Homo sapiens: one gene and its partner. The protein of the gene in region 1 interacts with the protein of each later gene in a pairwise test. Each region holds a gene or a part of one and is shown on either strand. Other genes may lie near its edges.

The links. The genes of interacting proteins can lie anywhere in the genome.
Region 2: the proteins of ACY3 (region 1) and MAP3K8 interact in a two-hybrid assay, tested with the Homo sapiens proteins (one large-scale study listed by BioGRID and IntAct).

What each region holds. Positions count from the first base shown.
Region 1 is NC_000011.10:67,644,893-67,647,730, forward strand, and holds part of ACY3 (N-acyl-aromatic-L-amino acid amidohydrolase (carboxylate-forming)), read right to left. Parts: intron 2,732-2,838; exon of another isoform or gene 2,698-2,731; 5' UTR 2,624-2,697; intron 2,172-2,623; 5' UTR 2,152-2,171; coding exon 1,916-2,151; intron 1,570-1,915; coding exon of another isoform or gene 1,549-1,569; intron 996-1,548; coding exon 800-995; intron 489-799; coding exon 395-488; intron 261-394; coding exon 153-260; intron 1-152. UniProt on the Homo sapiens protein: Plays an important role in deacetylating mercapturic acids in kidney proximal tubules. Also acts on N-acetyl-aromatic amino acids.
Region 2 is NC_000010.11:30,451,184-30,454,683, forward strand, and holds part of MAP3K8 (mitogen-activated protein kinase kinase kinase 8), read left to right. Parts: intron 1-454; coding exon 455-561; intron 562-3,500.

The DNA of each region.
Region 1 (2,838 bases):
AGCCCATCCCTCCCTCCAGGCTAGGGGACAGACTGGGCCGTGGGGGTACGTCAGGGCTAGATCCCAGCCTGCCTGTGAGCCTGGCTCCCCAACCCCTGAGCCAGACCTGCTCTTCCCCGGACCTGTTTCCCGAAAGTCCCCTGGGGTCTCACCCTGGTTGAAGAGTTCGATGAAGTCCAGAACTGTGGCCACCAGGGTCCTCATCCTTGAGAAAATGTCAGCCCGCAGCACACCCTGTGGCTGGGGGCCCAGCTCCAGACCTGGGGACCAGGAAGCAAGGGGTTAGGCAGGTGCAGGACCCATATACTCCTTGAAGAGGCCCTGCCCCTTGGTGACTGGACCCGCCCCTCCAGCCCTCCTGGCCCCGCCCACTTCTCAGAAGGCTGCGGCCCACCCAGTCCATTTTTGGCCACAGAGTCCAGGTTGTAGCTCTCCTCCCCAGACCGCTGGTACAGGAAGACCTGGCAGGACAGCTCGGGGTACTGCAGCTGGGGGCGAGAGAGGCAGGTTAGGGGCCCAGGCCTACTTGGGAAGGGAAACTGAGGTGGGAAGGTGTTGCATGGAGGAAACACAGGGCACCACCCTCCTTGGCCAGGTCTCCCTCTACCCTCTGGCAGGGTAGGGGAGGGGGTACCGGGGGCCTGGAGTGCTGGCGAGTGGCAGACCCCAGGGACTGGAGCCCAGGGGAAACTAGGCCCGGGGAAGAGGGGCTAAGCAAAGGAGGTTCCAGCATTGTCCCGCCTGCCCTCCCTCCCTCCCACTCCCCTCTGGGGAGCTGTGTGCTTGGGGCCGGGGCCACCTGCAGATGGCGGCACAGGTGCATGGCAAAGACTTCGTGGGAGGACTTCGCGATTAAGCAGGTGCCCATGTTGGCCGTGGTGTTGTGCAGGTCAAGGACAAAGTCAAAGGCCTGGCCCGAGGCCTTGGGCCCCAGCAGCTGGTTCAGCTCTCGGGCTCTTGTCACCTCATATGGGTCGTCCGGGGTGGGCCTGGAACTGTGGAGACGGGAATGGGGGACACCGATCTTCACAGTCTCAGTCAGTCTTCAGTGGTTTAAGGGGAAAGGGGCAGGGGCCCTGCAGGAGCCACTCTGAGCAGCTCGAGCGAGGGCTTTCCCTTCAGACGTTGTGGCTGTGTCCACCCCTGCCCGTGGCCCTCTTGGCTCTGCACTTCCCGGTAAAATCCAAGCTCTCAGCCTGGCCCGCCCTCCCACCTGCCTGCCCACTTGCCTGCCTCTCATGCCCTCATTCCAGCCACACTGCCTGAGCACCATGCTGGTCTCACCCCCAGGCCTGTGCTGTGCTTGGCCCTCCAGTGGAAACTCCCTCTCACCTCTCTTCCCCTGGCTAGCTTTTAGTCAGCCTTTGGGGCTTGGCTGAGACACCATTGCCTCCAGGAAGCCTTCCCTGACTGCTCTCAGCCAGGTTAGCTGCTTTGTGTAGCCTCCGGCCCTGCCTTTAGCCCCCTGGGTTATGGTTGCCCGGTTCTTCCTCTGTCTCCCCATTAAGCTTGAAGCCAACACCTTGGTCCTATTCCCCATTCTCTCACCTGAGCTGGCCAGAGCCTGGCCTGGAGATAGGATGCAGTGACTATTCATTGGAAGGAGGCATGAACAGTGATCAGGGCACACGACAAGTAAACATGGCCTGTGGGGCTAATCTGAGGGAAGAATTAGGTCTGGGATCCCCAGAAGAGGTCCTGAACCAACTTGCAGTCAGGAAGGCCTTCCTGGAGGAGGTGACATCAATCTTGGTTTCTCTAAATGTTCGGTTTGTCCCGTGGAGGAATGGGCCACATAGGCAGAGGGGAAGCAGGAGTGAAGGCAGGGAGGGCCCTGCTGGTGGCGGGAGGGAAGTTTTGTGGTGGGGACTCGGTGCCCAACTGCCTGGGCCAACCTGGCGGCAAAAGCACTCACTTGAGGAAGCTGCTGGTGAAGGTGCGGTTGAGGTCATGGTCCACGTAGCGGCGGCAGCCGGATGTGGCTGCCGGGTTGGCCAGCACAGGCACAGCGGAGAAGCTGGCTCTCTGCAGCTCTGCGGGGGCATGCAGCCAGTGCCGGGCCAGGTAGACGCCCGACATCTCGTTGCCATGCGTGCCCCCAGTCACAGCCACGCGACGCAGGGGCTCCCGGGGCACAGGCAGTGAGCACATGCTGGTGTGGGGTGCAGAACCTGGGGGTGGGCATACTTAGGAGACCCTGGCCCCGATGCAAGGGATCTGGGCTCAGGGCAAGGATGGCGGTGGGAGGCTCCACAGGGCAGCCACCTGTCAAGAGGTGTGGACAGCTGGGAGTGTCTCAGCTGTGTCCCACCTGCACCCCCAGTGGCCCTTTCTCTGAGGAGACAATTTTCCTGCTCCTTTGGAGAAAAGAAGTTTCTTTTTCCTAAATTGAGAAGAGGGGCCCAACTGTTCAGGAAGATGGGTTCACCAAGGCACACTCCCTATAGGAAGAGGACTGCGCTCCTTTTTATAGACAGGGAAACTGAGGCACAGCGTGGGGAGTGGAAAGTGTCACCAGAGTTAGCTGTGGAGTGTCTGGGTTCTAGGCAACAGCCTCGCCTTCCTGCCCCTCCTGCTTGCTCCTCCCAGCTGGTGCAGGGGTCTCAGGTCAGGGGGTACTTACCGCTGATGCGGATCTGGGCTTCCCGGGCCACCAGGACTGGCGTCTAACTCGCAGACAGGCTGGTATTCATGGGCCTGGAGATCCACAGATGGGAAGTTTTGTGGCAAGCTGGCAGACAGCAGGGGGTGGGTGGGACGGGCTGAGGTTCATGCAGCCAAAGGTCGGAGTGCTGGGGTCTGCTCCACTGCTCCTGCCCCGCCCGCCCCACGCTGCTA
Region 2 (3,500 bases), on another chromosome or scaffold:
CCAATGTAACAATAATCCATTAAACACACCTTTACTAACTGTTTTCTAGGAGTCTGATATGATGAGGAAATAGGTAAACCTTTAATAGCCAGTACTAAATTAGAGTGGCACAACTTTCACTGGGAAAAAAGATGGGTATTTTACTTTTCTGTTTTAGAAAAGTGGCTTGACAACAGTATGCTTATGTCTTAGAGTTTGAAATTCAAGTTCTTGAACATTATTAATGGCTACAATCATTCATACCCACATTGGCTGTATTCTTGATGGATCCAAAGTGATTTTCACCTCAACTCTGAATTTCATTCTCCTCTTTTGAATATAATACAACCATCTCACTAGAGGAAGCATTTCAGTCTTTTCTGATTGGAGATTCATTATTGTTTTAGATAATGTTTTCATTTGACTTATGGGTATATAAAAAATTTTATCTTAAAAATATTTCCTCTCATTTTAGCTAGCAACATTGTTTTCATGTCCACAAAAGCTGTTTTGGTGGATTTTGGCCTAAGTGTTCAAATGACCGAAGATGTCTATTTTCCTAAGGACCTCCGAGGAACAGAGGTAATTATGTTCACATGAAAAGGGTTACTATTTTATTAAGAATAAAAAGGAAAAAATGTTCTAGAATTATTGTGGGAACGAAGGACAAAGAAGGGGAAGAAACCCACTGCATTAAATCATTATTTTCCTTGGAACACATTTAATGAGCACTTGCTCTGTGTCAAGTACTAAGTTTAGCACTTGATTTTTTATTGTATTTTTTGCTATGTTATTTATAATACATAATAGTATTTGTAATATAATATACATGTTGATATATATAATATAGAACATTTGTACACAATGTCATGTCAAAATAGATCACATTGGCCAGGTGTGGTGGCTAATGCCTGTAATCCCAGTGCTTTGGGAGGCTGGGGTGGGAGGATCAATTGAGCCCAGGACTTTGAGACAAGCTTAGGCATCATAGCAAGACCCCATCTCTATAAAAAAAAACTGGTTTAGGCTGGGCACGGTGGCTCAAACCTGTCATCCCAGCACTTTGGGAGGCTGAGATGGGCGGATCACCTGAGGTCGGGAGTTTGAGACAAGCCTGACCAACATGGAGAAACCCCGTCTCTACTAAAAATACAAAATTAACCAGGCGTGGTGGCGGGCACCTGTAATCCCAGCTACTCGGGAGGCTGAGGGAGGAGAATCATCTGAACTCAGGAGGCAGAGGTTGAGGTGAGCCGAGATCGTGCCATTGCACTCCAGCCTGGGCAACAAGAGTGAAACTCCATCTCAAAAAAAAAAAAAATTAGCTCAGTGTGGTGGTACACGCCTGTAGTCTCAGCTAGTTGGGAGGCTGAGGTAGGAGGATTGCTTGAGCCCAGGAGTTCAAGGCTGCAGTGAGCCATGGGCATTCCAGCCTGGATGACAGAACGAGATGTTGCTTCAAAAAAAAAAAAAGCCCCCCAAAATAGATCATATCCACAGTTCGGCTTTATTTTGTGTGTTTTTGTTTTTGTTTTTGAGACAGAGTCTTGCTCCATCGCCCAGGCTGTAGGACAGTGGCGCATGATCTCAGCTCACTGTAATCTCCACCTCCTGGGTTCAAGCGCTTCTTAGTCTCCTGAGTAGTTGAGATTACAGGCATGTGCCACCACATCCAGCTAATTTTTTTTTTTTTTCAGTAGAGATGCAGGTTTCACTATGTTGGCCAGGCTGGTCATGAACTGTTGGCCTCAAGTGATCCTCCCACCTCAGCCTCCCAAAGTGCTGGGACTACAGGTTTGAGCCCCCGTGTCTGGCCCACAGTTCAGCTTTAATAATAATTATAGAATTAGAGTTAACTTTATAATAAGTTTAGCACTTAAAAAGCAGTATGTTATTTAATCCTTACAACAACCCAGTTGTTGCTATTGTTATTCTTATTTTACAATCAAGGAAATAAGTTTGCAGAGATTAAAATAAAGTGTCCAGAGTCACTCAGTGACAGACCCTGGACTTGAACCCAGTTCTTTCTAAGTCTAACCCTAAGGTCTAACTGCTACATAACTTTAAAAAATTATAATATTACATACATTATTAAAATATATTAGTGATATAACTAATATCACTGAGTTTTGGCTCAATGACAGTCTTAACTATGGTCATTAATATTTATGAGGACTCTAAAGGCCTCTCTTTGAGCCTAGGAATTCTATAATAAACCTCAAGTAGTGAGCATAAATGTATCTTATTTAAAGATGTAAAACAGCACTCATGTTTAACTCATCTGTGAAGCAAAAAACGACCCAGAAAAGCCTTTCTTTCCTGACTCTAAATGAGATTCTGAAAAATGCGTTCGCGGGCTTCCAAGTAATGTATTTAACATTCACATCATTAGGCTGACTGGGTGATTCAATTAGCCAGTGTCCACTGGGCATCTGCTATGTGGCAGGTTCTTGTGAGCACCAACGAGGAAGCATGACACAAGGCAGTGAGGAGCAAGCCTTAGTGGTACTCCAGCGATCCTCACTCTTTGGTGGGAGGACTTACTTTAAATTACCTGAATTATTAAAAGAGCAACCGTTTAGGGATGGGCGTGGTGTTCTCACACCTGTAATCCCAACCGTTCGAAAGGCCAAGGAGGTGGGGGTGGTTTGCTTGAGCCTGGGGGTTCGAGACCAGCCTGAGCAATAGAGTCAGACCTCATCTCTTTTGAAAAAAAAAAAGAAAAAAAGAAGGAAGGGAGGGAGGGAGAGAGAGAAGGAAGGAAGGAAGGAAGGAAGGAAGGAAGGAAGGAAGGAGAAAGAAAAAGGAAGGAAGGAAAGAAAAAGAAGGAAAGAAAGAAAGAAAGCATGCACAACAGTTTAGTTCACAGTTGATTGTGATGGGCACAAGGTTGGATGCAAGCAGGAAGGTAAATGGGTGTAAAAGCTGCCTCCTTGGCCCCTCACCACTACCGGGGGAAGCTGCACTGCCTGAGCCACTCAGCCCCATGCCCTTCTCTTTGCTGGAAGTGCCCATAGGAAATAGAGAGAGGGTCTTTGGCTGCACCTCTATGTCAGGATTACCAGGTCAGTCTTGGTGTTCAATCAGATGACAACCCTTAGTCTAGTCTAGCTAGTATACGTGTTGCACTGAACTGGATTGCAGCCACAAAAAAATTGTCTTCCTTTCAAACCAGATTCTTCCAGCCTGGGCAACATAGTGAGACCCCATCGCTACAAAAAGTAAACAAACAAACAAACAAAAACTTTACTTTTTGTAAAAATGGCATGGTGGTGCATGTCTGTAGTCCCAGCTACTCAAGAGACTGAGGTGGGAGGATTGCTTGAGCCCAGGATGAGGCTGCAGTGAGCTGTGATTATGCCACTGCACCCATAGCCTGGAAAATAGAACAAGACCTTGTCCTAAAAAAAAAAAAAACGCCAAGATTCTGTAAGTCCTTTCTCAACTCTCTCAAAGCCAGCACTCTCCCGGGCAGCAGAAGAAATCCTTGCTTTTGTGAATATTACTGAAGTTATTATTGA